Regions from separate parts of the Homo sapiens genome. Here region 2 is linked to region 1. The links come from fine-mapping of genetic effects on gene expression. A gene starts in region 1. The other region holds a variant in brackets. All regions are shown on one strand. Distances are between the middles of the regions. Region 1 holds the start of SPATA1 (spermatogenesis associated 1). Region 2 overlaps SPATA1 (spermatogenesis associated 1).

Evidence for each region.
Region 2: its variant is fine-mapped to the expression of SPATA1 in lung (TOPMed, PIP 0.97).

What each region holds. Positions count from the first base shown.
Region 1 is chr1:84,504,590-84,507,509 of GRCh38, reverse strand. It overlaps SPATA1 (spermatogenesis associated 1), which reads right to left and starts at 1,124. Exons shown (of 14, transcript NM_001397487.1): 1 at 1,092-1,124. GNG5 (G protein subunit gamma 5) reads left to right here and starts at 929. Exons shown (of 4, transcript NM_005274.3): 1 at 929-1,074; 2 at 1,209-1,499. The coding sequence starts at 1,419. RefSeq lists silencers at 1,204-1,283, 1,534-1,663.
Region 2 is chr1:84,546,333-84,549,252 of GRCh38, reverse strand. It overlaps SPATA1 (spermatogenesis associated 1), which reads right to left. Exons shown (of 14, transcript NM_001397487.1): 11 at 289-467. Among named protein-coding and RNA genes, the nearest start is that of CTBS, 27 kb to the left of the region's middle. The variant G/A (reference allele first, on the strand shown) is at 1,535.

The sequences.
Region 1 (2,920 bases):
TACGAAGCTGTATAATTTACTTTGAAATAAGGAAATAAAGCCTCAGTAACTTAAGTGGCTTGCCCAAGAATACCGTAAGTAGCAGAGCCAGAATTCAAACCCTGGTTTTAACCCCAATCATTACATCCGTATGAATTAAGTAAAATGCTAAACTTACGATGTACATTTTTGCGAACTGATATAAACTGTTGAGTAAATAAATTAGATTTTGTTGACCAGTGCAATTACACATGCTTCCCTAATAAAAAATTTGAAATCCATTAATGATAAAATTATTAACATTAATGGAAAACATCAGCGCATTCGGAGATTGACTACCCGAAAAGAAATAGGAAACATCTGCCCTTAGTGCTGTGACATAACACACATATTTCCGTGGATGAAAGAAAGACCTACTGGCTGAGCCTATTTTGTTTGGTTAGACCCTACCCTCTCTCCTAAAAACTCCTTTGGTACTCAATTTCAAGCAGGAGGTAATAAATTACAACGGAAATACTAAAGAGCAAACTTTCCGGAAACACAAAAATAAGTTTTATTTTAAAAAGTACAATAAGCATTAATTCTCCAGAGTAAATGGGTAACCGAGCAGACAGGTGTAATCTTCAGCCAGCACCTTGGCTTCTTCACAATCTCCTTCAGAAAAACCGATTCAAGAGCTAAGAAGCCAGTAAAGTCAAACCTCGAGAAGATCCCTTCTCCAGCGAATCAGCGCCCCTGCTCCCCGCCCGCCCGGCTCCGCTGGGTACGCGACAGCGACCTCCGCGCCTGCTCTCCGCCTCGGGTCAGCGGGGCTGGGGGTTGGGGGTGGAACTGAAAATGCCTGTTGGCCAAACTCGGGTCACAGAGAGACACGCCTGTACGGGGCGGGGGTGTGCGGGTGACTCACGCCGGGTGCACAGTAGCTCCTACGCCTCACCCAGTATCTCCCCTCACTTCCCTCAACCCTTCCCACAAACTGGGAGGAAAACTGAGACCTCCTGGTCACCCGCCGCCGGGCCTTTTAGAAACTCCCACAAGCTCTGCCTTCCCTCCCTGGTCCTCTTCAGACCCCCTCTTAGTTCTTCGCGGCTAACGGTAAGCTCTCTCCTTACCTCTCCCTAATCGGCCCCTCTGGAGAGGAAAAGAAAACTTAAGAGTCGGGTCGCGCTAGCCTCCAGCAGCCGCCGCGCCCACCGACTGCTCCGCCCCTTCTCCTCCCCCTCCTCCAGGCTCGCGCTCGGGGCCGGGTGTGGAGCTGGAACAGAGGGCTGGCAAGGCGCGCATGCGCACCGAGGGTGGAGCCGCTGAGCACAGAACCGGAAACTTAGAGACAAAGTTCGGAGCCCCGCCCCCGCCGCGCGCCGCTGAGTTGTCTGGCCCCGCCGACCCACGGCCCACGACCCACCGACCCACGAATCGGCCCGGCCGTCGCGTGCACCATGTCTGGCTCCTCCAGCGTCGCCGCTATGAAGAAAGTGGTTCAACAGCTCCGGCTGGAGGCCGGACTCAACCGCGTAAAAGTGAGCGGGGGCGGGCGGCCGAGGCGGGAGGAAGGCGGCGGCGGCGGGTGGGATCCGGCGGCCCAGCTGGCGGGGGCGGGCGGGACACGCGCCGGCCCTCGCTTCCCCTGGAGAGGACGCGCGCTCAGCGGCGGCGATCGGGGAGCGGCCAGCTTTAGAGCAGGCGCCGCGTGGGTCTACGCTGTGTTTTAGGGGGACGATTAGTTCGCCCTTCCGCCCCAGGACTTTCCGAGGCGGGCTGGCCCCTGGGTTGAACCGTGGCCGACATTCCGGTCCTCCTCCGTCTCTACCTCCCTTGGCAGCCTTCTCGGCTGGTCTCACCAACAGCTGCGCCTCCGCGCGCTGTCCGCACCCTTCCTTTCCCACTTTGCCAGCCTCCTGTTTCTCATCGGACAGGGTATTTTCCGACTTTTGATTCAGAGCAGACTTTTCTCCCATTTGATCTTTCCCAAACCTACTTCCTTTAGTATTAAATTCTTACCTTCAACTTCTCTTGTCCGTTGAACACATACTTTTAAGCGAATTATTGCATAACTTAAACTGTGGATTGAATAAGCATTTTTCGAAACGATCCTGGAGTGTAAAGTTCCGGTCAGTGCCCCGTACAACCTCGAACAAAGCGTGCATTTCATACCTATGGCACAGTTTGCTCATATTTGACCTTGGGGATATCGACTGGTCCGCATGCCGGAGAAAATGATTATTGTGGGTAATTATTGGTCTTATTTTGGCGTCTGGTTAGTATTGGCCTTGTCTTGGGGTACTTTGGGAGAAAAAGCCTTTTGTCTGTGTTGATAGAATAACTTGACATTCAAGTGCTGTTCTAAGTATTTCCTGATTTTTACAGTCCTAAATGGATTGGCTTCTTTCTGGTACAATAGGTCAGGCTACATGTGAAACACTTCTGCAGTTAAAAAAAGAAACAAGAATGTAAATCATGTGCCCTGTTAAAAGCAGCCAGTTCCTAAGATGATTTGATTTTATACTCATCAGGCTAGTCTTTATTACTTGCCGAAATGTTTTGTGAACTGAGAGGGTCTCTAAGCTTTCTTAACTAGAAGTGTCAGAGACCTAGCTTACTCAGTTGTGGTCACCTCAGAAGGGAAGGGAAATTCTCATTCGTCTTGGTGCAGGATCCTCCTGAGAGAGAGTCTCCCATTTAGTTTTGTTAACTAGAAATGTCAGGGACCTAGCTTACTCAGTTGTGGTCAACTCAGAAGGGAAGGGAATTCTCATTCGTCTTGGTGTGGGATCCCCCTCACGTCCAGTCCTTGAAATGCTGTAGACCTCACTGCAGTTTGGAATCCATTTCTCTACTCTCCCAATTCTTACCTCATCACAGTGGTTTCTAGTCAGTCTTGGCTGGATTTGGCTCTGAAACTCGAAATCATTTATTTCGTAACCATTAAATGTCATTCAGG
Region 2 (2,920 bases), 42 kb before region 1:
TACTTGCCCTTGACCACTCTATTGCTACTATTAGAAGCAGTCTTACAATGAAATTAACACTGAAAATAATAGGAAGAAAATATCAGACCCCTTAAAGGCAACATTAAGCTGCTGACTGTATCTCCTCAGCAATGCTCCTCCTATTACATAAGGTCATGAGTTTTTTTATTGTTTTAAGCAAGTTTAAGTCAAAGTTAGCCTAATGCATCTTGTGATACTACTAGCACTTATAAAGCATGTGTTTTGAACAGAACTTCTCTAACGGAAGGGGGATACATTTAGTAATACCTTGGAGTCTGTGATGTTTGCCAGATTCTTTGGTCTCATCTTGATCTCCCTGGCTTCAAGTTGCATGAGCAGTTTTTTATAGTAGAGTTCCAAATCTTCTCGAAGTTTTGTTAAAACCTCCTCCATTGATGCTGTGACTTTCTTTGTTTCCAAGTATTTTTTCTTCCAACCATTGTAGGCTATAAAAAAAAAAAAAAAAAAAAAAAAAAAAAAAGGAAAGGCCTTCGTTTGAGTATTAAAGGATTCAACTTTTCATCCTGGAAAGGATCCTAGAGCTAATGTCAATTTAAACCATTTTCCTCTTTCTCTCCTCTTCTCCTTTTTTTATATACTGAGGTCATTAGACCTGAGGAAGAAATGTTTTTTGGATTATAAGAGAACTTGTATAGAAATATAGTAATATATATATATTTTATAGTAATATACATTACTATAAAAGTAATATATCTAAAAGTAATACATTGAATAGTAATATATATTATAAAAGCAATATATATACTTGTTATATATAGTAATCTATAACATATATAAAACTATAACATATATACATATAACATATATAACTATAAAAGTAATATATGTATGTTACTTTTTCCCATGATTATGGAAAACTGATCCAAAATTAATCATTAGAAATTAAACACTACCAGTTTAACAAATTGCATTGATACCAATGAGATTCTAAATACAAACTTAATAGGAACACAAACTATATGCCAGTATACCAGAATTTGTTTAGTTTCTTTCTTTTAGATTATCATAGAAACAAAAATCTCAAATTTAAAAATTCTACTTTATAAGGTGATTTAATTAAAATTATATAGCTACATGGAACTTTAGCTCAAGATTTTGGATATTTATCTCATGCTCTATTATCCAATCCCTTAGCAACTTCTACCGGTATTACTGCCAAAATACTTCTAGCATCTAGCATATTCCACCTTCTTCAATGCTACATCCTTAGTCAATGTCATCTTTTACCAAGAAGTCTGCATTCTCTTTCTAACTGGTCTGTCTGCTTTCATTCTTGCCCCTGTACAGGGTATTCTATACAGCAGTCATTCTGATCTTTCTAAAATATTTTTTAAAATCATATAAATCCCTAGCTCAAAATCCTCTAGTGGCTTCCTACCTTGCTTAGAATAAAATCCAAAATCTTTGATTTGGCCCATTTATTCCTTGCTGACCTTTCTGATTTTATCCCCCTCTGCATTCCTTCTTACGTAGTGTTTCAGCAGCACTGGTC[G/A]TATTTCAGGCCCTTAATGCCACAATGTCATTCTTATTTCTTGACCTTGATATTTAGTGTTCCCTTTGTGCCTGCCTCCCTATTAATCAAATCTTAATCTTCTCAGAGATACTTTCTCTGAAAATTCTACCTAAAGCATCTCTTCCCTGCCTCATCACTCTTTACTATGCTCTTTTTAATTGAATTCTCAGCTCTGATCAAAGCTGATATTGTCTTACTTGTTTATTGTCTGTCTCTTCCCATAGGGAAGCAAGCTCCTTATGGGCATGGCCATGTCTGTCTTGTTCACTGCTGTATCCCCAGCATTTAAAACAGTGCCCGGCACATAGTAGGCTCAATAAATATTTTATGGCCAATACATACCTTTTATCTTGAAATATTCCTGTTGAAATAGGAAGTGATGGATCATTCCCATTTCATAAACAGAAAGGGTGAGGCACAAAGAGGGGAAGTAACTTGTCTAAGTAAAAGATAGATCTGGTGTTACAATCCTGGTCCTGTGATTTTCAGTCCATTGTTCAAATCTGTCTGATAAAATTGCTTTTTTAACATTACAACAAGGCTGACTCATTGCCACCACTTTCAGGATAACACATTGTAAAGCAGAATCTTGAGAAGTATCTCCTGACATTGTCTATAACCTTCAATCAGTTCTAGTGCTGAAACAATTTTGCTGTAAATTGAGAATCATAAAACCACTTAATTCCATAGATACCTTTTATCCTTATAATCCTCAACACAACCCAAAACGGAGGCCTCTCAAATAATTTAGCAACTCTCAAGCCACCATCATGTACTGTCTTCATCCTGCCTCATCAGTCCACCAGTCCTAACAACACTGTTTCTAATTGTACTGCAAGAAAACTTACTTAACTTCCCTCATTCATTCACTTTTAAAAGCAAGGCACACACACACACATATCAAAAAATTAAGTACAGAAGAGACCAAGGGACTCAAAGTAGGCTTCTACAGTAAGTGATATATAAGGTGATCTTGACTGACTAATAGGAAATAGGCAGGTAAACTGGGAAGAGGGTACCTCAAGGTAAGAGGAGAAGTAGATGGCAGAGGGAAAAGCATGCCCGAAGACCTAGAACCAAGAGTGTACTTCAGATCCTAGCATATCCAACACTTTTCCTGGAAGCCTCTCTTGATCTCTTCCATCTAATTTAGGCGTTCTCCCTTTGTATTCCTATCCATAGAACTTTGTAATTCCTTTATCATAGTTTTCATCAAGTTTTTTTTTTTTTTTTTTTTTTTGAGGCAGAGTCTTGCTTTGTCACCCATGCTGGAGTGCAGTGGCACAATCTCAGCTCACTGCAACTTCCGCCTCTGGGTTCAAGCCATTCTCCTGCCTTAGCCTCTGCAGTCACTGGGGCTACAGG